5 separate regions of the Homo sapiens genome follow, and regions 1, 2, 3 and 4 are each reported to be linked to region 5. The links are microRNA targets in miRTarBase. Many come from high-throughput screens and were not tested one by one. Region 5 holds a microRNA gene; each other region holds the end of a gene's coding sequence.
What was found. The annotated mature microRNA hsa-miR-4700-5p reads UCUGGGGAUGAGGACAGUGUGU and lies in region 5 at 2,749-2,770, shown strand. An mRNA with a match to its seed (bases 2 to 7 or 8) in the 3' UTR can be bound and repressed. Matches are read on the target gene's strand: a 7mer-m8 pairs with bases 2 to 8, a 7mer-A1 pairs with bases 2 to 7 and ends in A, and an 8mer does both.

Region 1 (6,444 bases), not on the chromosome of region 5:
ACCAGCAAAGGAGCAGATTTCATACCTCCCTTGCACTGGTCATCCTTATCATTCTCCCCATAGGCCACTTGCCTGCCTTGTCTCTTTTTACCCTTGCAGCATTAAAGAGAGGAGGGTAGGACAGTCACTCCCAATCCCCATTTTAGAGGTAAAAATAGAGATCTAGGAATTGGTTGAGTTTGTTTAATGACAGCCACTGAATGAGGGACTTGGTTAGGTAAGAGACCTTATTTTCTGTCTCCTCTCCCCATACCAGTGGGCACAGTATAGCAATCTCCCAGCCCCATGCCTGTATTGTGTAAAGAATGTTTCTTTTTGGCCAGGCATGTGTATTACTGTTATGGCCAGGCACGTGTATTACTGGTTCACACCGGTAATCCCAGCACTCTGGGAGGCCGAGGTGGGTAGATCACTTGAGGTTAGGAGTGAGACCAGCCTGGCCACATGATGAAACCCCGTCTCTACTAAAAATACAAAAAATTAGCCGGGTGTGGTGACGGTGTCTGTAATCCCAGCTGCTTGGGAGGCTGAGGCAGGAGAATCGCTTGAACTCGGGAGGCAGAGGTTACAGTGAGCCGAGATCGTGCCACTGCACTCCAGCCTGGGCAACAAGCGTAAAACTCCGTCTTAAAAAAAAAAAAAAAAAAAATTAGCCAGGCATGGTGGCGGGTACCTATAATCCCAGCTACTCAGGAGGCTGAGGCAGGAGAATCGCTTGAACCCGGGGGTCAGAGGTTGCAGTGAGCTGAGATTGCGCCACTGCACTCCAGCCTGGACAACGAAGTAAGACTCCATCTAAAAAAAAAAAAAAAAAAATCAGATTTTATATAGAAAAGCTGGATCTCTAGCTTCTCTTGGAAAATCAAAAGATCTTATAATGGTGGGCTCTCCAGCTTGCCCCAGTTCCCCGGAACTCACCTGTCTTTATTCGTTGATGATATTATGGAGTATCTCTGAGAAAATGGGGCCTCCTCAGCCAGATGCTGCAAGAGGAGGTGAGGGGCAGTGGGCAGCCAAGGGGATGCAGCCTGCAGAAGGCGTTCCCAAAGGACTCTGCCACTGCCTGCCCATGCAGTGTGGCTGCGGCTGCTTTTACCCATTGGCTTCTGCTTTGTGCCCCAGATCACAGGCTGTATCGAGATGGAACTCTCAAGCTCCTGGGTCGTCTCTCCCTTCTCTCTGAAGAGATACTCTGGGCTGCCAATGGCTTACCCAACCCCTTCTGCTCTTCAGACCACCTCTGCCTGCTAGCCAGCTTCGGGATGGAAGTCACCGCCCCATGACAGGGCTCCCAGGGGAAGAGAGCTTCTCTTCCAGAAGAGCTCACTGGATCAGAGACTGTGGAAAAATCCCATGCATCTAGAAACTTAGATCCAAGAAACTTACATCCCCTCCCTTCCCCCTCCTCGTTCCCTTTTTCCCACGGTTAGACTTTCTCCAGGCCTGGCTGCGTTCTCTGCCTGTGGTCCTTGCCCCACCCCAGCCTCTTCCTAATCCTGTGCCACACACTCAGTGGCCCTGGGAGAGGCAGAAGGGGGGCTCCCCCTTCCTTCCATGTATCCAGCGCTCCCCCTTGATTTTTAATTACCAGGGTTATGGGAGTTCTTGATTTCATTGGTTATTTGCTTTCAGGCCGTTTCTTGATGTACCTTCTGACCTGACCTTTTCCCTGCCTTCAGGACTTCTGGGCCCAGCCCTCTTGCCAGGCATGCATATGTGAGATATGCATATCATGTATGTGTCCTCTTGGGGTGAGACTTCTGCACAGCCATGCCTGCCTCTGACCAGTCCACTTTTCATGTTGGGGCTGTAGGCCTGGGGCAGGTTCAGAGTCTACCCAAGTACCTATGTATGAGCAGGCAGCAGCAGGGCATGGCCCCATCTCTCCTTTTAGCCTCTGTGTTTCATTAGGCATTCATCCTGCCAACCAGGGCAGGCCCGGCGTCTGGGCTCTGGGAACAAATGGGGCCCACATCCTGGAGTGGCAAATTTTGGGGGATGCGCTACCTGTCCCAGCTGGCCCTGTGCCTCCAACCCAGAGCTCCCCACAGACCTGGTGTAATTTCACAAGGGCCATCCCTTTCCCCAGGCTTCCCTGAGGGAGGCGGAAGTTTGAACCCTTATGTGGGGTTCATTGGGCTAGGGTAGTGGTATGAGGTTTAAAACTATTTAAGGATTAGGAGGAGAAAGAGTCTTCAGGAAACTCTTGTTTCACTGGACTCTGCAGCCTGCAGAACTGGGGCAAGGGTAGGAGTTCCAGTAGGGGAAGGAGCAGGTAGACTCTTCAGCTGCCTCAGCTGGGACTGAAGACCTAAGCTGATTCTCTTTCCTCTCCACTCCTAAGAAGCAATTTTCTGTTCCTCTCCTTCCACCACTTTTTACTTTCTGCTATCTCCCATCTCCCGCTTCCCTTCCATTTCCTTTCTAGAAAACCCTGGTATTTAGCTCAGGCCAAACTGCCTCAGCAGAAAGGTGGCCTTGGACAAAACTGGTCCAAGAATTTGAAGTGGCAGTACTTGCGGATTGGCTCTGTCCAGCAAGGCCTCAGCTGCTTGTTGCGTCTGCTTTCCCTCCCCTAACAGAAGGGTACCCTGGCTTATTCAGGGGACTCCTTAGTCCACACTGTGTCACCTGCATGCCTTAATCTTTCATTGCTGGGGTGTGGCCTTGGGAGATCCTGGGCCAGCCCCTCCACACATCTCCCTAAGTCAGAGTGGCTGCTGGCCCTGGTAGATTTGACTTGCTCTTGCCTCACTCGACCTCCAAAGTGGGACTGAAGACAGTGGTCAAGAGACTTGAGTTCGGGACAGTAAGCCAGGGGTTAAGGTTCTTTCCTTTTTTTGAAAGCCAAAGACCCAGTTTGCATTGTGCTGCTGCATTCATGGTTAGAAGCTTTCCATGCCTAGGTTCTAGGGAATTTATTTTTCTATGTGTATATATTTTCAAACTTTGTTTCCTGGGTACTGGGCATGTGCCTGTCTGAGCCCCAGGTCTGTCTACACCCCACCATTCATTCTGTCTGTCTGTTCCCTGGACACTGCCTAAAAGGGTCTCAAGACAGTGCCCTGTGGGTTCCTAGGACTAGGGCCCATCACTGTTCTCTTCTGCTGGGAAATGCAGCTTTAAAATGGCTAACCACAGCAGAGGGCAGATGCTTGATAGATTATCTTTTCCTTGCTTTCTTGTTTCTGTTTTGAAAGTGAAATGGGGTTTTAAATTGTTATTTAAACTCTTTTTCCAAATAAAGGTTTACCTTTTTTCCCCCCAATGTTGTTCATTTTATTAGGATCCTGAAGGGATTAGGTCCTTGAGAGAGGGCCTGAAGAATGAGGTGGGCAGAGGAAGAGACTAAGGAGCTTTTGATCTTGGGGTGGGGTCTCAAGACATGAATCTAGATTGAGAAATGTGTTGTAAGATCTCCCTCTATTAGCTGAGGTAAATTCCCACTGCTGTGAGGCCTGGGAGGAACAGGGCTTGAGTGAAGCCTCCTGCCTTGACACTGCTGGGGTACAGCTTTCTTCTGTCCTTCCCAAGTGAGAGAATGATTCTTTGGACTGCTTTTCATTCTTCCTCCATCTGCTCCCCCCATGCCTCCTCCTAGTATCTTCTGCACTTCAGGAGGGTCTGTGCAAAGTGGGATAAGATGTGTGTTTTCCTGATTAAAGCTATGGCAGCTGCATGAGACATGATGCGGGTGGCACATGCCTCTTGCTGAGCATCTATTTCTGATCTCTTTTGCATTCTGGAGCCAGGGCTGAGCAGTGGGCCATCTGTCGCTGGAAAAATGTCTCTTCCTTCCTAGGCCTACCTCTGTTGGTGCTTTTGTCTTCCAACCTCCCTATGTAGTAAGACCAGCCAAGCCCACATGCCCACTGGGAGCCCTGAAACCAGATCTGGTTTTCTGTCTTACCTGAACAGGTTCCCAGAACCCACACCAGGCCTCTGAATCAGTCTCTGAGAATCTGATTGATTTAAAGCCACTTGGTTGCTTCCATTGCACTACCTGGGTTGCGATCCCCTCAATTGATTTAGTAAAAAGAAAACTTAGCGGCCGGGTGCGGTGGCTCACACCTGTAATCCCAGCACTTTGGGAGGCTGAGGCGGGTGGATCACCTGAGGTCGAGAGTTCCAGACCAGCCTGACCAACATGAAGAAATCCCGTCTCTACTAAAAATACAAAATTAGCCGGGCGTGATGGCGCATGCCTGTAATCCCAGCTACTTGGAGGCTGAGGCAGGAGAATTGCTTGAACCTGGGAAGCGGAGGTTGTGGTGAGCCGAGATCATGCCATTGCACTCCAGCCTGGACAACAAGAGTGAAACTCCATCTCAAAAAAAAAAAAAGAAAAGAAAAGAAAAGAAAGAAAACTCAGCTAGGAATTAGAAACATCATTTGTCCTCTTGGCCTGTTCAGCTGGTGACTGTAGGTAAGTTACTTAACCTCTCTGTATTTCAGTTCACATTCCTTGGTGAAATAGAAATTAAAGTTAATAATCACTTCTACTTGTGAAGAATTTTCAGATCTGAAATTGCTTTGTTTGGGCTTTGGCAAGAAAAAGGTGCTAAGAATTCCAGAGAATTATTGGTAGGAGTTGGGAGTAGATCGTTACCCCAGCCAGGCTGGACAGTTGGGCCCATTGGCTAGGAAGTATTTGAAAGCCCTAAGCTTTGAGGTATATCCCCAAGAACCTCTTCCTGGCAGGGAGGGTTCCTCCTAGTTGCCTCAGTCAGTTAGCATCTCCACAGCACTTCTGTTAAGTTTGCACAGTACTTCCACGTCAGCTAGCAAAGACAGTGGCACTGTGTGGTGGCAGTTTAGGTGGTGTTCAGATTCTACCTTTACACCTGAGGAAACAGAAATCCCAGAGATAGAATTTGAGAATCTCCTTTGGTTTATTTCTTACCACCCCAAGTTTCTCACAAGCCTTTCCAGGATCAGGCAAGACAGGTTATCTTGGAAGGCAGAGGCTGGTGGTGGGGGCCTGGGGCTGGGGGAGCTCAGAGGCAGCTTTTAACTGGAGACCAAGAAGGGAAATGGCCAGTCAGGAGGCTGCTGCTTTTTTTGTTTTGTTTTTCTCTCCAGTTCCTGCCCTGTTGTAGCTACTAACTAGAGGAATGTTCTGGTTGTTTTGTTTTTCCTTTTTAAAATTGACATGTGATAGTTGTACATATTTTGGGGCTGCATATGGTATTTTGATACATGCGTACAAAGTGTAATGACCAGTCAGGATATTTAAGGACATTTATCACCTCAAGCATTTATCTTTTCCTTGTGCTGGGAACATTCCAATTCTTCTAGCTATTTTGAAATATACAATAAATTGTTAACTATAGTCTCCCTACTGTACTATCAAATACTAGAACTTAGTCCTCACCATATTTTTGTACCATCCACCTGCTCTTCATTCTCCTCCCCTGCTTTTCCCAGCTTCTGGTAACCCCATTCCGCCCTCTATTGGAGGGTTGTGTTTTGATTGGCTGCGAAATGCACAGTGTGGCTTCTCTTCTCCCAGGAGTGGGAGGGGCCACCTCTAGGGTCCACCAGGGGGAGCTGCCCTGCAGCCCTGGGCTCCCATCACTCTGGTCCATCCCCTCTCCTCTCCCTCCTGAGCAAATGTGCTAGACAAGACTGTTCCAGGTATGGGCCAGCCAGATGGCAGCATGGTGGTGAGGGTGCAGATCTGCTGGAAGCAAGAGAATGTGGACTTCATGGGTTGTGGAGGGAACTCTGCACTTCTGTCCCATCCCCAGTCAGCTCCTATGACCCTAAGGCCTGAAGCCTCAGCTCGCTGTGGAGAGAACAGAGCCTACACTTAAAATTCTTGGAGGTTTTGTGCTTCCAACAACCAAGTCCTTTCAGGCTCAGGGTTGGAAAAAGTTTGTATATCTGTGTGCACATTGTCATTTGGACGGGGCTCAGAGAGGTGACCTGCCAGCTGACCTGACGTGGCCTCTCCTCATCTTCTGCCAGGCCTCAACAGCTGGTCCCCTCACCTTGCTGGCAGACACTAAGGGTTACAGGCAGCCTGCTTCTGGGCCATTCTGCTTGGTTCTTGGTATGACTGCTTCCTGTCACTACCTCCACGGTAGTGGTCCAAATGCCAGCTCCTGGTAAATGGGGCAGCAGAGCTTCAACCCCTTCATCGTCAGGCCTCTGAGAAGGGCCACCTGCACCCAAAGGTCTAACCCAGTTAGTCAGGTGCCTAAATTAGGCAGGTGCGTGCTGTGAGCCTGAGGAATGGGACAGCAGGAAATGAGGTAACCCCTTCCACCCCCAAGCAGGTCGGGTTCTGATCCTCCAGGAGTCTGCAATGACATTTCCTTCTGCTTTCTAAGAAAATGGCCAGTGTCCACAAAGAGCCTACCTGACTCATTACGTAGATTCTCACCCCAGCACTTACTTACCCAGCCCCTCATTTGTACAAGAGCAGGCCAGGGGCCCCAC
Region 2 (6,444 bases), not on the chromosome of region 5:
TATGCAGGTACCATTTTAGAAGCATCCAGCCTTCAATAAAAAGGTTTCAACACCAGTACAGGAGAGTGAGCTTTCGGTTTTATGGAAACACAAGCTCTAGTTGTTAAGTAATCTTTGGCACCCAACTTAAGACCTGCCTCGAATACTAATTCAAATGGAAATGACCTTAACACTCTTAAATCCTTTCTTAAAAAATCATAACAAGGAAACACATGCCTCTAGCAGACTTTTGGAAGGTTAGAACTGACCTTAGCGTTTAGTCCAACCTTTATTGTACAGAACAAATGGCTTTGACACTTGGCAGCATTTTTTATTAGAATGATCAAAGATCTGTATTATTGGTTATTGCTCTGGATAATGATGAGTTCCTATGCACTGGCAGTGTGGACTATCACACCTACAAAGAAGAAAGTGTGTAACAAAGGCATTACACTTGCCACCCCCCCACCCCCTTTTTTTTTTTTTTGAGACCGAGTTTCGCTCTTGCTGCCCAGGCTGGAGTGCAATGGCACAATCTTGGCTCACCGCAACCTCCACCTCCAGGTTCAAGCAATTCTCCTGCCTCAGCGTCCCAAGTAGCTGGGACTACAGGCATGTGCCATCATGTCCAGCTAATTTTTTTTTTTTGTATTTTTAGTAGAGACAGGGTTCTAATTTTTTGTGTTTTTAGTAGAGACGGGGTTTCACCATGTTGGCCAGGCTGGTCTCGAACTCCCGACTTCAGGTGATCCGCCCACCTTGGCCTCCCAAAGTGCTGGGATTATAGGCGTGAGCTACCACACCTGACCCCCTGACCCTATTTCTTTTAAGAAGTAAAGTAGCCAAGAGTTATTTCCATAGATGGTATTGCAAATTCTGGTACATTTTGTAAATTCAGAACCTAGGATTTAACAGTAACTTGGTTGGTTCTCAAAGGATAAAACTGAACATGCCTAGAATTGTGCAGCGCAACAAAGGTTAACACACTTGATTTCCTGCTTACATTTATTGTGGCTAGAGAGCCTAAACAGCTATTTTCTTCTCCAAAAATTGGAAAAATATAACACGATAGCAATTTTTTAAATACATAAAACTTCCTGGATCATGAATCAACATGAGACATAATAGCCTGTAGATATCAATTGTGATCGCTTTATAAAATGTCATTCATCTAATGCATTTCTGAAATTGCCCTTAAAGCTACACATACACACATGACTCTATATCACATAAAGGCATCCATTCATGAACAGAAAGAAAAGTCTTTTATTAGTACTGTGTAGGGAAGGCTAAAGAAATATACATTTAATTCAGAATAATTTTTAAGAAAAAACGTGGGGTTCCAAGAAATGGTGATTTACATTCAAATGAACATGTACATTTGCAAACCTGGATAAGTAGATATTTTCATGAAGCACGCTACAAGAAAATTCACACAGAATTATTTGTTTTTCAAAGGCCTCTTTCAAAGTACAGACTCCAAGTCCAAAGCAAATACCCATGGCATGAACAAATAGGATGCCTAAGATTCTAACATTTGCTTCGGCATGGCTTTCCTCCTCACTTCCCTACCTCACAACAAGAAAAAATTTCCTAGATGGGACAATGGCAAGATATTGTGCTAATACGTTTCATAGGATTTCTAGATGCTGGGCTATAACATCCAGGTTACAATTTGGTGACGGATTTTTTTATTTCTATTGCAAATGGACTACACTCCAAACACAAAAAGATTCTTGCCATAGCATCCAAACATCCCTATGTAGACCCACACTTCCTCTCAATACAGAAAGAGAATCACTCAGAAAGGACAAAGCTGGCAGACCAAGAAAGGAGGCAAGGGTAAACTCTGTCACTGGCCAATTATCTAAAACAAAAATAGCAGCCTCTGTTATCAAAGTTGTCAGTTAAAACTGTCAGCTGTCAGGCACAGTGACACACACCTGTAATCCCAACACTTTGGGAGCCCAAGGTGGGTGGATCGCTTGAGCCCAGGAGTTTGAGACAAGACTGGGCAACACAGAGAAACCCCATCTCTACAAAAAATACAAAACTTAGCCAGGTGTGGTGGTGTGTGCCTGTAGTCCCAGCTGCTCAGGAGGATAAGGTGAGAGGAACACTTGAGCCCAGGAGGTAGGGGTTGAAGTGAACCATGATCATGCCACTGCACTCCGGCCTGGGTGACAAAGGGAGACTCTGTCCAAAAAATAAAAATAAAAATAAGTCGCCAGCTCTCTCCTTTATAAACAGTCTTTAGACTGGTTTGTATCATGCCCCTTGATGTACCAGAGATATGTTTAACCAACCTAGTTTTGTTGATTCTGACAATCTCACACACATTTAAGAATTTACCATTTTTCAGGCACTTTTCAATGTTAAAAAAAATTAAATCCAATTATTGAAAATCAGTTTGACAAACAACCCCCACTCCATAGCCCTGGCAAAAAAAAAAAAAAAAAAACAAAAGCAGCTAATTCAGTGATACAAACTCTGTAAGGTGGCAAATTCCCTCAACTCGCCAAGGAAATAGCACATATTTATTTTCTCCCATCTTTACTCCAAATTTGGGACCTCTTCCTCTGATAACACAGTCTTTTAGGTTACTTGAAATCAGCCCCCATTTAAAGACTCTTTGCAGCACCAAGCTTAAAGAGTTTACTGACAGAGGACTTTGCCACTATTAACATTCTTGTTACAAAAATTCAGTTTCAGTTGAGTTCTCGTAATCCCCTGAGCAGTTATAAATGCCTTTTACCTATAATGAGGCAGTGGGCTACGTGTAAAACAAAGCAAATTAACTATTCAAATATATGTAAATCTATAATTATACTAACATGAACTACACTGATAGTGTTTTTTTCTGAAGTGTTTAGAGTTTCAAAAGAAAAAGACACAATATTGAGAAATTTCTAATAAATGATTAAAAATGATTTTGGTTGGTTGCCATTCCCAAGTTTTCCCAGAGTTCTCATCTATGTTCTACACAACATGTAAATTAAAATGTACATAACCAACAGATGTACTATACACACATCAGATATCAATATATACTTGTGAATTAAAGTTCCTGAAATATACACATCCCCACTTAGGATATATCCTATTACATAGGCAAAGCATCATCCTTTAACAATAGGTCCGAGATAGCAGCAATTTGATATTCTATTACCCAGTTACCTCAGAAAATATCATAGATCCTGAATAGTTCCTGATATGGTATCCCTGGCTTCAAGAACTCTCCAGTAACATTTAGCATAGGTCTCATGAAGCACCAGGCTACATTGCCAATAGCAATTATATAATCCTGTCATTGGAGAAAAGGTTTTATCCTTTCAAAACCTCGTTATTCAAATCTGACTAATGGTATAATGGAAAAAATAAGTCACAATGAGGTGATACATAAATTTAAACTAAATTATATAAAGCATTTCTATTTTATTTCTTACATGTTTTTGTTGCGGTTTTATCAGTGCCTTGAAACAGAAAGTATTCAGACTGTCCTAACAGATGCTGAAAGAGCAATAATGATGCTGAGAAAAGAGCTATTCTGTGTTCGAAAACATGTAAATGACTCGGTTATCAATTAGCGTTTTTACAGAGATGGCAGGATATTGTACTAAGCACTGTTTTAAAAGAGTTATGAGTCTATACCCTTGGGTAAGTTATGAACTTACAACCAAAATTCACATATATAATATGCAAAAAATCTTTAGGCAGATTTACAATAAACCATTTCAGTCACAAAAGGATAGAATGGCTCTTAAGTAAACATTTATTTTGTGTGTACTATTGGGTATATCCATGCATGCTCAATGGATAGAAATTACAGGTAGGCTGCAAGTCACATGGATTCTAGATGTACATAATACGCACTTTAATATTTACCCTCCATGTGTACTCTTAGGCCTGATTCCAAATCTATTGGCTGTGTGAACACAGATCCTGAGAAAGGTCCCAGATATCTATGACGAAAGTTTTGAAACTCTACCACTCTACCCGTATTTTATATGAAACAATTCTGTAGACCACAGCCACTGGCTGTAAGAGACAAGTTGGCCAACTTAGAAAACTTACATTTGCCAAGGGAGAGACACTAAATTAGACCACATTGTTTAACAGGCTGCAACTCTTTTACTGGGAAGGGGCAACTCCCTCTGCACAGCAGTTTCACCTGCTTGAAGCTGAGATCACACAAGGAGAAGCCTATTGTGTTTCTGCCAAATCACAGCGGGAACATGGGGACAGCACACCCAGTAGCCAGCAGAGGCACAACCACCATATCAACTGCTGAGATCAGCAGCCTGCTTTATAGCTCCTATGAGGATTTCTCCTTACGCAGTCTTATCCTTCTCCTCATCAGGTTTCCCCTGTGTTTCTCATGGCAGTCAAATCAACACAGAACAGACTCCAGCTTCTTGGTTATCTTGTATGTTGCCAACAATGACAACACATTTGTTATATCAAATGTTCCCGCAAGCTCCTTGAATTTGGCTGGAAGTTGAACAGTCCAGTGAGATCCTTTGGATGATAAAATGATATGTTCATTCATCTCAAGGAACCCCAAAGCTCCATAGAAACAGCTGGACCGTTGAGCCCAGTTCTTGTTACACAGGAACACTCACACCCAGGACTTGGCCTTTCCTGATGCTGAAGGCTGGCAGGCAAGTTCAAAGTCTGGACACGGAGGCACTTTCAAAGTTGGCAAGGAGAAGGAGGCAAGGTCACTAAATGGGGCTTTATCACTGTGCCATCTCATGTAACTCACATATCTGGGGCGTATGAACACAGAGATCTTTAGGTTGTGGATGGGTCGTGCTTTTTCTTCTTGCCCCGACAGGACTTGCAGACACAACAGATTATACATGGGGAGGCCAGGAGTAACAAGGGTGAAGTAACCAAGGCAATGATGCCCAAGCCTACGAGAATCCCCACCACCTGGAAATTTCAAAGAAAAGCATATTTCAGCAATTAAGTCTTTCAATATGTATACTTATTCCAACTATACTGTTATCTGCTGTGGGCCAAATGTTTGTGTCCCCCTGAAGCTCATATGTTGAAACCCTAAATCCCCGATGTGACGGTATTTGGAGACGAGGCCTTTAGAAGTTAGTTGGTTTATGAGGGCAGGGCCCTCATGATGGGATTGGTGCTCTTACAAGAACAGATGCCAGAGAGCTTGCTTTCTTTCTCTAGGCTCTATGCCATGTGAAGACACAGCAAAAAAATGGCCATCTTCAAACCAGGAAGAGAGCCCTTGCTAAGATATGACCATGCTGTCACCTGAACCTCAGACTTCTCAGCCTCCAGAACTATGAGAAGTAAATTTCTGTTCTTTAAGCCTCCCAGTCTATGGTCATTTGTTATAGCAGCCTGAACAAGACATCATCTCAGGCACACAGAACAGTTACATTTCTGGGACCTTTCAGCTAGTGCCCAGCAATGATCTGAATTGGAGAGAAGCCAGAGAGATACAAAGGACCAAATCAAGGATGGAAACCATCCAAATGCTAACTCAAGCTGTCGCAAGCTCAGTATAGTCATGAATTATTGGTATTGGTGCTCTCTCTCTACTTGAATTTCCTCAACTAGCTCAAAGGGATGTTAATGATTACTAGGATATTAGCACTGACTCCCTCCAAAGGAATACCGCCTTTAATAAATATAAAACACTATTAAAAATTAAAAATAAACCATGACTCCTTTTGAACCTGCCACATAAACACACAATGGCATGTACACAGGGATCTAAGCCCTAGAAGGGGCTCACAGGGTTTTAGAGCACTGCCTGATATGGTTTGGCTGTGTCCCCACCCAAATCTCATCTTGAATTGTAATAATCCCCACGTGTCAAGGACAGGGCCAGGTGGAGATAATTGAATCATGGGGGTGGTTTCCCCCATACCGTTCTTGTGGTAGTAAATAAGTTTCATGAGATCTGATGGTTTTATAAATGGGAGTTCCCCTGCACAAGCTCTCTTGCCTGCCACCATTTAAGACATGACTTTGCTCCTCCTTTGCCTTCTGCCATGATTGTGAGGCCTCCCCAGCCATGTGGAATTGTCAGTCCATTAAACCCCTTTCCTTAATAACTAACCTAGTCTCAGGTATGTCTTCATTAGCAGTGTGAGAACAGACTAATACACTGCCTTTGATAGGTAATATGCCTTAAAGGGCTTTAGGAAAGTCATTCCACTGTTTCTCAAGAGGAAAGAACATCTGCCTGCATTCTGCACGTCACTGTTGACTGCCTGGCAGCTCTGGTGCCCCTGTTTCTCCGCTTGTCCTTAAGGAGACTGTGCTCATGAATTAACTTTAGGTATTTACCCCATTACTTTTCCCTAGCCCTGCCCTAACACTCCCCAGAAGCTCCCAGGCTGGGATGGTACCTCCCAGGAGGGAATAATGAGGAAAGGCGAAGAGGTGGGCTCTTTAAGCCATCACGATTTTGGTTTATGTCACGCTCCC
Region 3 (6,444 bases), not on the chromosome of region 5:
AGTAGACAACCTGAATTGGTTCTGACCTGCAAAGCTTACCATACCTCTAAATTGGATTACCAATTTCGCTTCTTAGGTGGGAAGAGTTCAGGCATATTTCACTGTTTTCAGACCGAGTCGATCACATATTTTCGGTTTTTTAGTGTATTTTGAAGAAAAAAAATGAACCTGTGACACTATGCTGAGCAAGGGATTTTATTTCTGTGACTGGTTTTTTTGAAAGCCAACACAGGATCCTGGGCAGAACCACAGTGAAGACATCCTGTGGGCACCAGCCTCCCCACTACCGTCTTATGTTATAGGCACTCCCCCACCTCTCCCCATAAAATTTCCATTTCCTAACCTGCTAGCGATCTCGGAATCATTTCTTTGGCAATTCTGTATCTGTATATTTCAGCTAATTAGAGTTGTAGGTCTAGTATTATTTCAGACATACATGATTCAGTTCAATAAATATTTGGTAAGTGCCTATACTATTGCAAGGTTCCATGTTGAGAAGCTGAAGATGCAGTGGGTAAAGAATCAAAGCCATGATCTCTGCCCTCGTGACGTTTATAGCCAAGTGGGAGAGTGAGAGATGCTAATCAAATAAAAATCCAATCAATATAAAGTTAAAACTAAGATACAGGCTATGTCAGAGAAAACTGTGCATGGGCTATAATCTAATCTGGTCTGGGTTGTCAGAAACAGCATCCCCAAGGAAGTGACAGTTAAGCTAAGATCTGAAGGGTGAGTGGGAATTGGGAGGAATCCAGATCAGAGAGAAAAATACATGTAATGTGCTCTGGCAGGAAGGAACATGGTTCTTTCCAGGAAGTGAAAGAAAATTAATATTCTTTCAATTAATTTAAAATTAATCAGCACAGAAAAGAAAGGGGGAATGTGGTGTGAGATGAAGCCAAGGAGACAGGTCGGGGCCAGGTCAGGCACACCTTCAGTGGCTGTGCCAAGGACATTTGGGGGTGGCGATCATTAGTGAGCTACTGAAATGTTTTAAGCTGGGACAGTGTAGAGGAGGTTCATGGCATCCTGGGTTTTGGAACAGTCCCTCTGATCACAGTGCAGAGGCCAGTTAGGAGGCATTCTCTGGGCACCATTGGTATGCAGTGAACACCATACTTAGTGGCCATTATGGATTCCTGAGACAGCTGCTTATTATTCTAACAGGATTGGCTTTCCTCTTTCCCCAGGGCCTACTTGAAGAAGTGGTCAGCTAAAGGAATCCAGGTTGTTGGTTGGACTGTTAATACCTTTGATGAAAAGAGTTACTACGAATCCCATCTTGGTTCCAGCTATATCACTGACAGCATGGTAGAAGACTGCGAACCTCACTTCTAGACTTTCACGGTGGGACGAAACGGGTTCAGAAACTGCCAGGGGCCTCATACAGGGATATCAAAATACCCTTTGTGCTAGCCCAGGCCCTGGGGAATCAGGTGACTCACACAAATGCAATAGTTGGTCACTGCATTTTTACCTGAACCAAAGCTAAACCCGGTGTTGCCACCATGCACCATGGCATGCCAGAGTTCAACACTGTTGCTCTTGAAAATCTGGGTCTGAAAAAACGCACAAGAGCCCCTGCCCTGCCCTAGCTGAGGCACACAGGGAGACCCAGTGAGGATAAGCACAGATTGAATTGTACAGTTTGCAGATGCAGATGTAAATGCATGGGACATGCATGATAACTCAGAGTTGACATTTTAAAACTTGCCACACTTATTTCAAATATTTGTACTCAGCTATGTTAACATGTACTGTAGACATCAAACTTGTGGCCATACTAATAAAATTATTAAAAGGAGCACTAAAGGAAAACTGTGTGCCAAGCATCATATCCTAAGGCATACGGAATTTGGGGAAGCCACCATGCAATCCAGTGAGGCTTCAGTGTACAGCAACCAAAATGGTAGGGAGGTCTTGAAGCCAATGAGGGATTTATAGCATCTTGAATAGAGAGCTGCAAACCACCAGGGGGCAGAGTTGCATTTTTCCAGGCTTTTTAGGAAGCTCTGCAACAGATGTGATCTGATCATAGGCAATTAGAACTGGAAGAAACTTCCAAAAATATCTAGGTTTGTCCTCATTTTACAAATGAGGAAACTAAACTCTGTGGAAGGGAAGGGGTTGCCTCAAAAGTCACAGCTTAGCTGGGCACAGTGGCTCATGCCGATAATCCCAGCAATTCAGAAAGCTGAGGCAGGAGGATTACTTGAGGCCAGACTGGGCAATATAGCAAGACCCCATCTCTAAAAAATTAGGCATGGTGGTGCATGCCTGTATTCCCAGCTACTCAGGAGGTTGAGGTGGGAGGATCACTTGAGCCCAGAAGTTCAAGGCTGCAATGAGCCATGATTACACCACGGCACTACAACCTTGGTGGCACAGTGAGAACCTGACTCTTAAAAAAAAAAAAAAAAAAAAAAAAAAAAAGATAACTAGAACTTCTAGAACATCTTGTTTACAGTTAGCCAGAAACTATACAAGTGGTTTAACATGCATTATCTTACTCAATCCATACAAAAGTCTTATGGAGGTGTTAGCACTCTTTCTACTGATGAAGAACTGAGGTACTTCATAAAACCACTTACCCAAGGTGTCTTGAGTCTGGTACAACTGGCATTCAAATCTAGGTCAGTCTGCCCCCAGAGCCACTACCCTTACCCCTCACTGAATCTGCCTTTATATTGTTGAGCCCATGACCCCAAACTGCTCTTTCCAATTTGAACTTCCAGGGATTTTATTGTGAACTTACATAGCAACATTAAAATGAAGTTGAATTGTTTTTAATGGCAACGCCGTCTGTCTCCTCTAGCTTACCGCTTCTCACCTTTCAACCCCATCTGTGGCCTTTGTCCAGGCCCACAGCTTAGCCATGGCTTCCCTCCTGCATCCCTGCCGTGGGTTGCTGGCCTCACACTTGCAGCAGCTGGACAGTGATTTTAGAAGGCCACCAGTCCCCATAGCTATGTGACAATGAGAAGCAAACTTTTTTGTGACAGATTGTATTGGCATAGGCATGATAGATGGGGATTGGTACGTTTTGAATCAGCATTTGCAAAAAAATTGTCTTGAATTTTAAAATAAACAACAAAGATTTGTTCATTGAGTGCAACAAATGTCTAAACTGCATGTACTTCCGTGCCATGTTATGACTAGAGTGAAAGGAGGAGGAAAAAGTGACCAAAGAAGATACATCAGGCCAGGCGTGATGGCTCATACCTGTAATCCCAGCACTTTGGGAGCTGAGGTGGGTGGATCACTTGAGGCCAGGAGTTTGAGACCAGCCTGGCCATGATGGGGAAACCCCATCTCTACTAAAAATACAAACATTAGTTGGGCATGGTGGCACATGCCTGTAATCCCAGCTATTCAGGAGGCTGAAGCAAGGAGAATTGCTTGAACCCAGGAGTCAGAGGTTGCAGTGAGCCAAGATTGTACCACTGCACTCCAGCCTAGGCCAGAGAGCAAGACTCTGTCTCAAAAAAAAAAAAAAAAAAAAAAAAAAGATACCTCTGTTCAACACTAGCTGTTCAACAGGCTGTTCAACACTAGCCTGGGCAACATAGTGAGACCCCATCTCTACAAAAAATTTACAAATAGGGGCTGAGATGGGAGGATCACTGGAGCCTAGCAGGTTGAGGCTGCAGTGAGCTAGGATCGTGCCACTGCACTACAGCCTAGGGGACAGAGTTTGACTCCAATCTTTAAAAATTTCATAATAATAATAATATCCCTTTGTGTTGTGGGAAGATCTCTGGAGAGCCATGAGATCTCTGTCTCTTGATCTTTATCCCAAATCCATTTTACCTTTGATTCAGCCAGGCCAAATTAAGGATTTAGGTCCTATGCTAAGATGGTCAGGGCCTCAAAAGGTGGAGAATTTGAATGATGAAATAAGGTATTAATAACTACTATTAAGCACTTCCTTGGAAGGCTTAGTATAGGGTTAATAACAGGATTTGGAATCAGAGAAAGCCAAGTCTGCCTTCCTATTCAGCAACTTACCAGCTATATGACCTTGGGTAAGTTACTGAATTTATCTGTAAAATAGGGGTAGTATTCTTGCGGTGGTAGTGATTAAATGAAAGAGTGCATGTAAAATCCTTGCTAATTAACATTTATTGACTGCCTACCATGTCCTAGACTGTTTAAAATGCTTTCCATGTACAGTAGTTTCTTTATTTTTTGAGACAGTCTCACTCTGTCACCCAGGCTGAAGCGCAGTGGTGCGATTTCAGCTCACTGCAACCTCTGCCTCCTGGGTCCAAGCAATTCTCCTGCCTCAGCCTCCTGAGTAGCTGGGATTACAGGCGCTTGCCACCACGCCCGGCTAATTTTTGTATTTTTAGTAGAGATAAGGTCTTACCATGTTGGCTGGGCTGGTCTCGAACTCCTGACCTCAGGTGATCCGCCCACCTCAGCCTCCCAAAGTGCGGGGATTACAGGCATGAGCCACTATCCACTGCATGTACACCTCCAGGAGAAGCAGGGCTGCACTGAAGTGGAGACAAGGGATGGAGGTGAAGGGAGAAGCATTCTAGATGGAAGCACTTAGCATCTGGTGAATGAGCAGAAGTGATGCTTTCAGAGAGAGTTCAGATTTCATTGTAGAAGCCCAAGCAGCAGCCGGGCATGGTGGCTCACGCCTGTAATCCCAACACTTTGGGAGGCTGAAGCGAGCGGATCATCTGAGGTCAGGAGTTCAACACCAGCCCAGCCAACATGGTGAAACCCCGTCTCTACTAAAAATACAAAAATTAGCCGGACCTGGTGGCACGCTCCCGTAATCGCAGCTACTCGGGAGGCTGAGGCAGGAGAATCACTTGAACCCAGGAGGGGGAGGTTGCAGTGAGCTGAGATTGTACCACTGCACTCCAGCCTGGGAGACAGAGGGAGGCTCCAACTCCATCTCAAAAAAAAGCAAAGAAAAAAGCACAAACAGCACTAAGATGACCCCAAGGGGAATAAAATCACTTCCAACATCACTTCCATGGGTTGCCTGCACTGACCCCACAGACAAGTCTCCCTTAGTCCCTGTGCTTCTTCAGAGCATCTACTACAACTGTAATTAATTATTGCTTAAGAATTAAATTCATGTCTAAACCTGCTAGACAGGCAGCACCATGAATTGTTCACCATCTTGCTCACCACTATTTGGTCCATATTTGTTGAATGAATGGATGGATGAACACTACATACAACTGTTACCAAAGATGACACCAAAAGAAATTAATTCCTCCGATGAAGTGAATTAATGAAAAAAATAAGTGAATGAAAAAGTGCGTGGTCAAGTGCAGTGGCGTGTGCCTGTAGTCCCAGCTACTTGGCAGGCTGAAGTGGGAGGACTGCTTGACCTAGGAGTTTGAGTCAAAGCTGGCAACACAGCCCAGCCTTATCTCTTAAAAATAAAAAAAAAAGGGAATAAATGACAGCACTGGTTGGGTGCTTGTGTTTCGAATGTATCTTAACTGCTTTCTAAATTCAGTTCCAATTAGGTTTTATGCGAGTGATTACTTAAGAGGAGGCTCCTCTCTCCTGAGTAACTGCACCTTTCTGCTGGACCTTTCAGTGTTAAGAACAGCCACGTGGCTTGTGAATCATTTGGCAAACCTGCAAAAACATTATACACACACGTATTCATTACATATGTGCACACACACACACATTCCACACATCACCACCAGTTTCATATTTGGTTTGAATAAGACTTTTAATTTACTTTATTTATTTATTTATTTATTTTTTTGAGGCAGAGTCTCACTGTTGCCCAGGCTGGAATGCAGTGGTACAATCTCGCCTCACTGCAACCTCTGCCTCCCAGGTTCAAGCAATTCTCCTGCCTCAGCCTCCCGAGTAGCTGGGATTATAGGCATGTACCACCACGCCCAGCTAGTTTTTTTATTTTTAGTAGAGACGGGGTTTCACCATGTTGGCCAGGCTGGTCTTGAACTCCTGACATTAAGTGATCCGCTTGCCTCAGCCTCCCAAAGTGCCGGGATTACAGGCATAAGCCATCGCACCCAGCTAATTTCTTTTCTTTTCTTTTTTCTTATTCAGTCTCCGTAGAGACTGTCAAAAATTGCCAGCGCTGATTATATTTCAAGTCATCACGGTGGGGTATTGGGAAAATTTCCAATTAGCAATAATCGCGTCTCGGATAAATCTCATTGGCTACGGTACTGCCACTGCAAAGCTAGCTTGACGTAGGACTTTGATGGTCATGTATAACACCTCACAGGGGCAGAACCTCCTCCATCCCCGACTCCAAAGACTCATGTAATCAGTACGCAAGAAAGTTCAGAGATGAGACCTCTGGTTGTATTCCACCTTTGGGACATGGGGGATGTCTTTAGTTCAAAGTCACAAATAAATGCAGGTTCTACAATTCAGAGGCTTCATATCCCTGCTGGAGTATTACATGTTTATTCAGGATGGACCACT
Region 4 (6,444 bases), not on the chromosome of region 5:
CATCTATTGAGATGATCATGCAATTAAAATTTCGATTAATATGATTACATTAAGTATGTGTTGGATATTGAACCACCCTTACATTCCTGGGATTCCACTTGATCACGGTGTATATTTCTTTTCTTATATTGCTGGATTTGGTTTTCTAGTATTTTGTTGAGGAATTTTGCATCAATATTCATGAGATAATAGTCTGTAGTTTTCTTGTGATGTCTTTGTCTAGTTTTGGTATCAAGGTAATACTGGCCTCACAGAATTAGTTGGGAAGTGTTCCTTCTTCTATTTCTGAAAGTTTGAAAAATTGGTTTTAATTCTTCTCTAACTGTATGGTAAAATGCAGCAGTGAAGACTTCTAGGCTTGAGCTTTTGTGGGTACTTTTCCCTGTTTTAAATTACTATTTCAACATCTTCACTCATTATAGGTCTATTCAGATTGTCTATTTCTTCTGGAGTCAGTTCTTGTAGCTTCTTCCTGTCTAGAAATTTGTCCATCTCATCTGCTATGGTTTATATGTTCATATGTTAGAACTTAGTGCCCAAGGTGATAGTATTAAGAGGTGGGGCCTTCTGGGAAGTGTTCAAATCATGAGTGCTCCATCATCATGAAAGGGATTACAGCTTTTATAAAAGAGGTTGAAGGGATCACCTTAATTCCCCTTTTTGCCCTTCTACCATATGAAGATACAGCAACAAGGTGCCACTTTGGAAGCAGAGAGTGAGCCCTTACCAGACACTGAATCTGTTGGTGCACTTTGCTCTTGAACTTCACAGCTTCCAGAACTGTGAGAAATAAACTTCTATTATTTATAAATTACTCAGTCTGTGATATTTGGTCATAGCTGCATGAATGGACTAAGATATCATCTAAATTACCAAATTTGCTGGCATATAATTGTTCTAGTATTCCTTTAAAATCCTTTTTCTGTGTGGCCAGTTCTGATTCTAGTAATTTGAATCCTTCCCTGGTCAATCTTGCTACAGATGTCTATTTTGTTTACCTTTTTAAAACTTTTGGTTTTGTTGATTTTCTCCATTATTTTTGCATCCTCTATTTCATTAATTTCTGATCTAATTTTTATGATTTTATTCCTTCTGCTTACTTTAGGCCTAGTTTGCTCTTTTTCCAGTGTCTTAAGGTGACAAGTTAGTTTATTGATTTGAGTGAGATCTTTCTTGTTTCTTAATATAAACATTTTCAACTTCTGGGATACATGTTACTATTTTTCAATTTGGGAGGTTTTCGACTATTATTTCTTTGAATATTTTTTTTGCTCTTTGCTCTCCTTTTGATATTCCCATTATACATAGGCTGGTATGCTTAATGGTGTCCCACATTTTTCTGAGACTCTTTATTTTCATTATTTTTTTCTCTATGTTCTTTGGCTGGCATAATCTCCATCAGCCTATCTTCAAATCCACTTATTTTTCCTTCTGCTAATTTTAAAATTTAGGCTGGGTGCAGTGGCTCATGCCTGTAATCTCAGCACTTTGGGAGGCCAAGGTGGGCAGCTCACCTGAGGTCAGGAGTTTGAGACCAGCCTGACCAACACAGTGAAACACCGTCTCAACAAAAAATACAAAAATTAGCCAGGCATGGTGGTGTGTAACTATAGTCCCAGCTACTGCGGAGGCTGAGACAGGAGAATCACTTGAACCCAGGAGTTGGAGGTTGCAGTGAGCCAAAATGGTGCCACTGCACTCCAGCCTGGGTGACAGAGCAAGACTCCATCTGTCTCTCTCTGTGTGTGTGTATATATATGTGTGTGTGTATATATATGTGTGTGTATATATATACACACGTAACTTTTCAGATTCCATAATTTCCATTTGGTTCCTTTAAAATAATTTCTATATTCATTTGATGCAGCCTTATTATATCATTGTTTTCTTTCTACTACCCACTAGTATTCCAGCTATGATGTTGCTCCTCAGGGTGTGTAGCTTTGCGTATGCCCACAGTCACCCTGGGATGACAGTCATTTTGGTAGAGTTCTCTTCCTCTTTCCCTGACCACATTCATTAAACCACTAATTGCCAATTCTATTGTTTTCAACAATGCCCTGGGGCACCATGCTCTACAAACAAATCCAATCAAATTCTGACTCCTTTGAAGAGAGAGTTTCTGGGAACACTGTGTGATATTCCTTCTGACCCCTGGATGCCTTCTCCCAGCTCTTTTCTTCAGTTACCTCCTGCAAACTATCTGGCCTGTAGCTGAGCCTGCATCTTGTCTCTCTTCCCAGGGTTTCATGGCCTCCACTGTTTCTGAGTGCCTTCAGGCTTGAACCTCTTCATTCTTTGTTGCAAACAAAGTCAGTTTCTTTGGGAAGAGATTAGGAGCTATCTGTTTTACTGCCTGTTTCTCTACCCAGGCAAAATCTCTGAGCAGGGCTCAGAGCTGAGGGTGCAGAAAACAGTAAGCTTCTCAATACAACTGTTCACTGTTAAAGTTTCCTTTCTAACTATTGTTATTGTTTCATTTCATGACTATTACAGGTTGAGTATGCCTAACCCGAAAGGTTCCAAAATTCAAATCCTTTTGAGTGTTAAGATGATGCTCCAAGGAAATGCTCATTGGAGCATTTTGGATTTCAGATTTTTGGATTAGAAATGCTCAATTGGTAAGCATGATGTAAATACTCCAAATCCAAAAAAGTCTGAAACTGGACACACTTCTGGTACTGAGGATGCCAGATAAGGGATAAGGGATACTCACCCTGTGCTACTGTGTGAGTCAAAAATGTGAGGCTCCCCTATGGCGGCCCCACCCTCCCCCACAGGGAAGTGATGTCATCAGGAACCCCAGGGGCTCCCATCAAGTCAGGGACCCTGGAGCTGGATGTCCTATAAGCACCCTGGGATGCTGGAAGGATGAGTGGTTTCCAGGGAAATAGAGGAAGATCCTTCCTGGCAAGGGCATGGCCAGGACAATGGCTGGGAGCCTGAGGGCCAAAGCTAGCAGGTGCAGGTCAGGGGCCAGAGCGGGCAGAGCTGTGAAGCCGCAGGCAGGGTTGCCATGGAGGTGATGGGAGTGCCCAGAACTGGGCATGTGCGGTGGGCGTCTGAGGGTCTCTAGGTCCCAGCATGATGCTTAGTGTGTCGGGGCACCCAGAGTTCCCCATCACCACTCAGGGCTGTGCAGTTCCCCTCAGCAACAGGCATGGTTCAGCACAGTGTTAAAGGCTGTCCATGGGGAGAGCAGGGCAGGTACTGGGGGCCTGGGCAGGCAGCTTCCCCATAGGGCGAGGCCCGGGCCTGGGCCTTTCCCCAGCCACCACCGCAGCCAGAAGAGGCAGCGGCTGGAGTCCCGGGGGCCTGCACTGGGGTTTCAAGGACACTACTGTTGCCGTGGTCATGGCCTGACCTGCTTCACTCTCTGCCCTATCATCCCACGAACAAAGGAACGTTCTCTTCCTCACACCTGGAAAAAAAAACAAGTGAGGAAAGTTCGTCGTGCTGCACCTCCCCTGGTTGGTGACCCTTTTCCAGCTTTCGTGCAATCTCCAGAGTTCTAGGACCTGCTGTCCCCACCTCATTCTCCTGCAAACCGGTGCCTGGGTGGGGGTGCCCTGGGCCTTGTCTCCCCTGACCTGCCTCGAAGCCTCCTCACCCTCCTCTGCCTTCCTGGTTCCACAGCTCGGGCCCCCATCCCATCTACTCACCCCTGCAGGGCCCTCACACAGGCTCTGTCCATGAACAGCAGTCCCCAGTTCCAGACCTCTCACCTGGGTGGCCGGTGGACATCCCAGACTCACCATCCAGAACTGGTCTCCAGTCCCACCTCCAGGCACACAGCGCAGGTCTTCACCTCTTTCTCCTACCTGCATCCTGTCCACCAGGAAATCCTGTGGCCTCATCGTCCGAATACCTCCAGAAGCTGGCTCTCCCTACCCTCTCCCCAACCAGGCCCTGCCCTATTCACCTTCACTCAGAGTGAAGTCATACTCTGATAGGGCACACAGAGACAGGCTGAACATGAGGCTGGGAGAAGTGGGAGCTACTGAGTGTTCTAGGTAGTAAGAAGTAACCAGGATGCAGCTCCTTGGGAGCTTTCTGTCTCCTGCTGCCTGCTCTGCCTGGCACACAGAGGATGGTGGGGGCACCAGGATGGGTGAGCCGTTGCCTGGAGAGACCTGGGACCTGCTCCGGGGTGGTGCCCTGGCTCCCCATGGCGGACACATCACCTACACGCCCTCTCCCGCTATCCCCCCACTCCCCCAGCAGAAAGAAGCAGCCGAGGTCTCCTGCTGTACTAATGTATTCCATCTTTCAAAAAGAAAGACATGATTTTAATATTACTTAACAATATGTTAAAAAAGTAGCCAGGCAGGCCTCCGTGTTAATACAGTCGTACACTCTATAACAGACTTGATGGTGTGAGTACTGGGTGGGCTTGTTTTTAACTTTCTCGTTCTGCAAGGGATCTTACACAAGCTGGCTACAAGTCAGGGGGATCAAACACAAACAGCGCAACGTGTACACTCGGAGACAGTAGATTGTGGAGAACAAAGGAGGCCTGCCCCGCCCAGCCCGCCTAGGGTGAGACGCAGGGGCACAGGAGAGCTGAGTGACGGCCGATACCCCGGTGAGGACACATGACAGGACAGGGCGCAATGCAGAGGCAACGGAGCCACGTGGATGATGCAAACTCCTATCTGGCCACGGCCCAGGCCTCCGAGGCCGCGGTGGTGGGAGGACTTGGCGGGAACTACTGTTCCAATCCGACAGCACAGAGCTACAATCGAAGGAGTCTCACGCACAGACTACACGCACACGAGCTAACGGCGTGGGCCGAGCATCAACTTCTCGGTCTGGGGTTTCAGGCAGCACCAGCTCCGCACAGCCCTTGGCAAGCACCACGGCTCTGGGGCGCCAGCGAGGGGCGTGGCTCTTGGGGTGGTGCAGCCTGGCCTGCCTCTCGCGTGTCCCTCTCCAGGGAGTCCTCATTCAGTGGGCAGCAAAGGTGGCTTTTTTCAAGCTAAAATTGGACCAGTTGATAGACAGTCTTTGTCGGGTCTGTCTAGCAGAATCCAAGCAGAACCTGCAAAGACAAAAAGCCAAACAGTCACTGAAGGAAACAGCCCACAACCAAGCTGGTGCTTGGCAAAGCCCATCACACTCCTGTTCTTGCCAGAAACTCACTGCGGGGTCAGGGGTTTAGATTCTCGGTGAGGGGCACAGTGTCAAGGGTCCCCTCCAGGCCCTGCTACAGGCTGCACTTGAGAAGGGGAAAGGACTCGGGAGGAGGAATGGGTGGGCGGAAGGAGTCCTGAGAAAGAAAAGAAACGTTTAATCTGAGAGCTGTGAGCGCCCTTAAATTATCAGGCCCAGGCAGGGTGTGGTGGCTCATACCTGTAATCCCAGCACTTTGGGAGGCTGAGGAGGGCAAATCACTTCAACTTAGGAGTTCGAGACCAGCCTGGGCAACATGGTGAAATCCTTTTTTTTTTGAGACAGGGTCTCACTCTCTTGCCCAGGCTGGAGTTCAGTGGCAGTTTCGGCTCACTGCAACCTCCACCTCCAAGGTTCAAGCAATTCTCTGCCTCAGCCTCCCAAGTAGCTAGGACTACAGGCATGTACCACCACACCGGTTTTTTTTTTTTTTTTTTTTTTTTTTTTGAGAAGGAGTTTCGCTCTTGTCATCCAGGCTAGAGTGCAATGGCACAATCTCAGCTCACTGAAGCCTCCGCCTCCCACGTTGAAGTGATTCTCCTGCCTCAGCCTCCCAAGTAGCTGGGATTACAGGTGCCCACCACCACGTCCAGCTGATTTTTGTATTTTTAGTAGAAAGAGGGTTTCACCATGTTGACCAGGCTGATCTGTACTCCTGACCTAAAGTGATCCGCCTGCCTCGGCCTCCCAAAGTGCTGGGATTACAGGCGTGAGCCACTGTGCCTGGCCACACCTAGCTAATTTTTAATTTTTTTCAAATGGAGTCTCTGTCACCCAGGCTGGAGTGCAGTGGCACGATCTTGGCTCACTGCAACCTCTGCCTCCCAGGTTCAAGCGATTCTCCTGCCTCAGCTTCCCAAATAGTTAGGACTACAGGTGCATACCACAACACCCAGCTAATTTTTGTATTTTTTGTAGCTTCTTCCCTGGCCAAGAAGCTTTTTTTTTTTTCTTGACACGGAGTCTTGCTCTGTCGCCCAGGCTGGAGTGCAGTGGCGTGATCTCGGTTCACTGCAACCTTCGCCTCCCAGGTTCATGCCATTCTCCTGCCTCAGCCTCCCAAGTAGCTGGGACTACAGGCACCTATCACCACGCCCAGCTAATTTCTTCTATTTTTAGTAGAGATGGGGTTTCACCATGTTAGCCAGGATGCTCTCAATATCCTGACCTTGTGATCTGCCCTCCTCGGCCTCGCAAAATGCTGGGATTACAGTCGTGAGCCACCGCGCCCGGCCTCCAAGAAGCTTTTATAGAAAGCAGAGGCCTCGAAAA
Region 5 (4,033 bases):
CCTCTTCCAGGTAGCTCCTCCTCTCACCTCCGGCATTGCCATCAGCGCAGTCTGCCCTCGGTCTGTGTGAAGTCTTAAACCAACTGGAAGACACTTGAAAGGGTGGGGAGGGAGGGAGGTGCCAAGAGTGGAGGCACCAAGGAATGGGTGATGCTGCCAAGCTGAAGGGTCTGCTTTGTGGAGAGGCTGCTGCTCTGTCTGACTTCCAGGGTCTCAGCCAGCCCTCCTGGGAATAGACCAAGTTTTCAGCCTGGCAGTGCCTTCTGTTCCCATTTTGGAGGACAGACAAGCTTGCTCCACATCTCCTGGCTCCTCCCTTCTGAGTCTCATGAAATAGAATGAGTCAGCTCTGCTCATGGAACAGTAGTATCTCTTGAGGCCAGAGCAGGTCTTGTATTTTGTTTTTTTATTTCCAGACTTCTTTCGGGGAGGTTTTATAAAATGACAGTGGTGTTCCCAGCATATGTGATATGTGGTTAGACTTCTGATAGTATCAGCTTCCAGGGGCTAATCTGGCTTATGTTGGGAGGATATGCTTACGAATCAGCAGCAGCTTTCTAAAGGAGAGATTTGACTTTTCTCTGCACTGCACAGCCTGGAGGATTGGCTTTTGATGGGGATTTGCCTCCGAAGCTCTTTGTACATTTCTTGTTTAGGAGGGTTTTCCTATCTACCTTTCTACTGAAGTAGTTTCTGGAACTTTCCTGGTGGATCAGAGTTACGTAATGCAGTCTGAGCCTTCAGACTGCTAGTTAGAATTGTTTTAGGTGTTCAGAAAGGGCAAAATAGGCTGATGTGGCCTGTCAGAGTGATGTGTTCTCAAAAAAGTTCACTTGCACATCTGTGGGCTGCTTTTGTCCTCAGACCCTTAGTGGACAGACTCCACAAACCCTCTGATGAGACGATTGATGTGGCCAGGGTCCAGTTAGCATCAGTAGAAGGATGTCACTAGGAAAGGCCCAGGTATCTGGTAAGTGACTGTGAGGTGTCACAGTACCTGTGACAGGAGAGTGTCCTGATGTGCTTGGGAGAAAGGCCGTATGGGGGCCAGGGATGGAAGAGACAGTGTGTGGCCACAGAAATTCCTGTCCATCCACCACCAGTGCTGCTCCCTGTGTGGGCTTTAGGGCGAGTGGCCCCGAACCTTGGCCCAGTGCTTTGTCCCAGGCCAGAGTCTTGGCAATGCCACATGCTGGCAGCTTTCTCACTGAGAAGGTCCTAGCTTACCCCTGTGTGCTGGCCTTGGATTCAGCCCCGAGAGAGGGGAGAGACCATTCCTCCTGTGGAGTGGGTTCCTTATCACCAGACCGGCCACTCTCAGAACTGGCGTCCACTGTAAATCCAGGTGCCTTACGTGTGGCTCTGTCCCTTATGCTGCAGGGGAAAGCTGCATTGCCATTGTTCCCACCTCCTCACTGGCAGAAAGATGCCAGGGCTGTTAGCACTGTCTCCTCACCTTCTGTTTCTCATTGTGGCTCCTCAAATGGGATTTGCATGTTCCTGTCAAGCGTAACAACAATCCCTTCTCTCTTTGACAGAGGCCCAGGTGGGACAGTTTCTACTATTTGATATTTGAGTATTATCTGGGATGTGGTTCTGGAGCTGCCCAGAGCTGTGCTTAGTAGAGTGTGTCTTGGAAACATGCCCCTGGGCACACTGTATCTGCTACATTAGTGGGCTATCTCTTATCTGCAGTGTTCGCTTTTGCTAGAAAGAGGATGTGGAGGAAGGAGGAGGTGGGCAATCTGGCTTGAGTTGTGCTGTATCCTCTTCCTTGTTAGCTTGCCTTAGTCTCACTGGAGACCATTTGCGGATAGTGCTTGGTCCATGCCCAGCAGGACAGGGCTTTGCTGCTTCTGAAAGTCTGGTGTTCTGTATCTGGGGCTGTGGGTTCCTGTGTCTAGCTGCTCAGGAAATCTTGAGAAGCATTCCACTCTGGGGTGTAAACCAGTATGAGTTTGAAATTCAAGCGTTTGTACCTGAGTTGGGGAGAGAATTGCAAGGCATACTTTCTCTGAAAGTAACAGAACCATTCAGGCTGCCATGTTATTAAGGAATCTGAACTGTTGATAGCAGTTACCTTGTGGGTGATACAATGGGAGGCGGCAAAAAAACTACCTGCATAGGAGACCCTGCCCTTTGTCAAGAGCTGGGAGCACATTTCATCAGAGTAGCAGGCCCACCTGGTGCCAGAGGGCCTGCCCCTCCTGCTTCTGTTCCTTTGCCTTGCAGTCTCCTGGAGAGAGCCTCTCTTTTCCTGTACAGCCTTTGGGCCAAAATGCCCTTCTAGCTTCTCCAAAGAAGATCCGAGTTTATTTCATTCTATGTTTTAAGAGGTAAAAGGACATAACAAGTGAAAGAAGTTTTGGGCTAAAGTAGGCTATGTCTCCTTATGTATTACTCAATACTGTTTTGCAGAGAAAACATTTTTCAAGCATGTGCTTCCTGAAGACACCTCAGTCTTTGGGCCATTTGATTTCCAATACATAGGGTGGAAGAATGTGATTTTGGGGCTGACCATAAACTGGAAATTTGTGAAATGGCAGTGATTGGGCAATCTTCAGTTTATTTTTTCAGTTGAAGTGGAACTCATTTCTGGAATGGATTTAATAGGCTGTGTCTAATGTACAAACTGGGTGAGTCCTGCCTTAGTGTGTCCTGCCCCACCGGTACGCTTCCAGGATACTCTTTTCCCCTCTGTAAAGTCACTTTCTTCTGATGGCCAGTGTCACTATGATGTCAGTGAGGTCTGGGGATGAGGACAGTGTGTCCTGAAATTCACAGGACTGACTCCTCACCCCAGTGCACGAGGATTCCTGTGGCATCAGGTGCTGCTGTACCTGGTGTAGGAGCCTAATCATTGAACCATTGTGTTACTCACATTCCATGTCACAGAACATATCAGCCTCAAGAAGGATTTGGTGGAGGTGGATTTACCACTGGTTTTACAAAGGACCGTGTAAAGTCATTGAAGTTGTGAAAGTCTATTTTTTTTCCTGTAAATCTATTTTTTACAGAATATAAGAAACATCAATGACCTGATCTGTCCTTCCTCCTCCTTCCCGCTTCCCCCAAAATCACATTCCAGTTTTTATTGTCTTTGTGTCCAAAGTAAACTAGGTGACTTATTTGTATAAAATGTTATTTTGCCACATGAGACAGTAATAAAAGAAAGATTTTCACAGTACGTCTCCCTCGTCCTGTCTCCTGATTGTTGGGCCCGTTGTGTTGCTGAGGGGAGCAGGGGCGAATGGGGGCTCCAGGTTTCTCTTACTTTGGCTATTATGTGGCCCTTCTGTAAGTAGTTGAACTAGAGTATAGCTGGCTTCTAGGGTGATTGAGGAATTGTACTGGACTTTAGGCTTAATATTTTTGCTTTATATTTTCCCAGGGTGAGTGGCTTTGTAAATTGAAAGTTTACATGCATGTTTTAAAGGTAGGGTTTTTTTTTTTGAGATGGAGTTTCGCTCTTTTTTCCCAGGCTGGGATGTGATGGCATGATGGTGGCTCACTGCACCCTTCGCCTCCCGGGTTCAAGTGATTGTCCTGCCTCAGCCTCCCAAGTAGCTGGGATTACAAGTGCATGCCACCACGCCCGGCTAATTCTGTATTTTTGGTAGAGACAGGGTTTCCCCATGTTGGCCAGGCTGGTCTTGAACTCCTGACCTCAGGTGATCAACCCGCCTTGGCCTCCCAAAGTTCTGGGATTACAGGTGTGAGCCACTGTGGCTGGCCATAAAGGTAGGCTTATTAAGAAATACTTTAACTACAGTAAAATTTACCTCAATTAAGAGTATTGATGCATTTTGACAAATGAATACTTTTATTACCCATCACAATCATGATATAGGACATTTCCATCGTACCCACTCAGAAAGTTCCTGAGTTCCTTGTGTTTGCAGCCAGGTGACTTCCCCCACTTCGCCTCTTGCAACCACTATCTGATTCTGTCTCTATTGGAAAACTTGGATACTTTTAAAATGAAATTTGAACGTTCATATTTACAGTCACAAATTCTCAAGAGTCTGGTTTA

Region 1: miRTarBase lists ANGEL1 as a target of hsa-miR-4700-5p. Seed matches in the 3' UTR shown: 7mer-m8 at 2,083-2,089.
Region 2: the mRNA of RNF144B is a reported target of hsa-miR-4700-5p. Seed matches in the 3' UTR shown: 7mer-A1 at 4,748-4,754.
Region 3: the mRNA of GDE1 is a reported target of hsa-miR-4700-5p. Seed matches in the 3' UTR shown: 7mer-A1 at 2,644-2,650.
Region 4: miRTarBase lists FAM193A as a target of hsa-miR-4700-5p. Seed matches in the 3' UTR shown: 7mer-A1 at 4,864-4,870 and 7mer-A1 at 4,811-4,817.

The regions. Positions count from the first base shown.
Region 1 is chr14:76,784,067-76,790,510 of GRCh38, reverse strand. It overlaps ANGEL1 (angel homolog 1), which reads left to right. Exons shown (of 10, transcript NM_015305.4): 10 at 1,123-4,502. The coding sequence ends at 1,283. It overlaps VASH1-AS1 (VASH1 antisense RNA 1), which reads left to right and starts at 3,787. Exons shown (of 2, transcript NR_104184.1): 1 at 3,787-4,426. RefSeq lists an enhancer at 5,640-5,689.
Region 2 is chr6:18,463,397-18,469,840 of GRCh38, reverse strand. It overlaps RNF144B (ring finger protein 144B), which reads right to left. Exons shown (of 8, transcript NM_182757.4): 8 at 971-4,914. The coding sequence ends at 4,774. Among named protein-coding and RNA genes, the nearest start is that of MIR548A1HG, 56 kb to the left of the region's middle.
Region 3 is chr16:19,498,364-19,504,807 of GRCh38, reverse strand. GDE1 (glycerophosphodiester phosphodiesterase 1) reads left to right here. Exons shown (of 6, transcript NM_016641.4): 6 at 1,191-3,115. The coding sequence ends at 1,338. TMC5 (transmembrane channel like 5) reads right to left here. Exons shown (of 22, transcript NM_001261841.2): 22 at 5,695-6,444. It also overlaps the pseudogene RNU4-46P. Among named protein-coding and RNA genes, the nearest start is that of TMC5-AS1, 14 kb to the right of the region's middle.
Region 4 is chr4:2,730,372-2,736,815 of GRCh38, reverse strand. FAM193A (family with sequence similarity 193 member A) reads right to left here. Exons shown (of 21, transcript NM_001366318.2): 21 at 4,243-5,041. The coding sequence ends at 4,948. Among named protein-coding and RNA genes, the nearest start is that of TNIP2, 23 kb to the left of the region's middle.
Region 5 is chr12:120,720,454-120,724,486 of GRCh38, forward strand. MIR4700 (microRNA 4700) reads left to right here and starts at 2,740; the gene lies at 2,740-2,813. It overlaps UNC119B (unc-119 lipid binding chaperone B), which reads left to right. Exons shown (of 5, transcript NM_001080533.3): 5 at 1-3,187.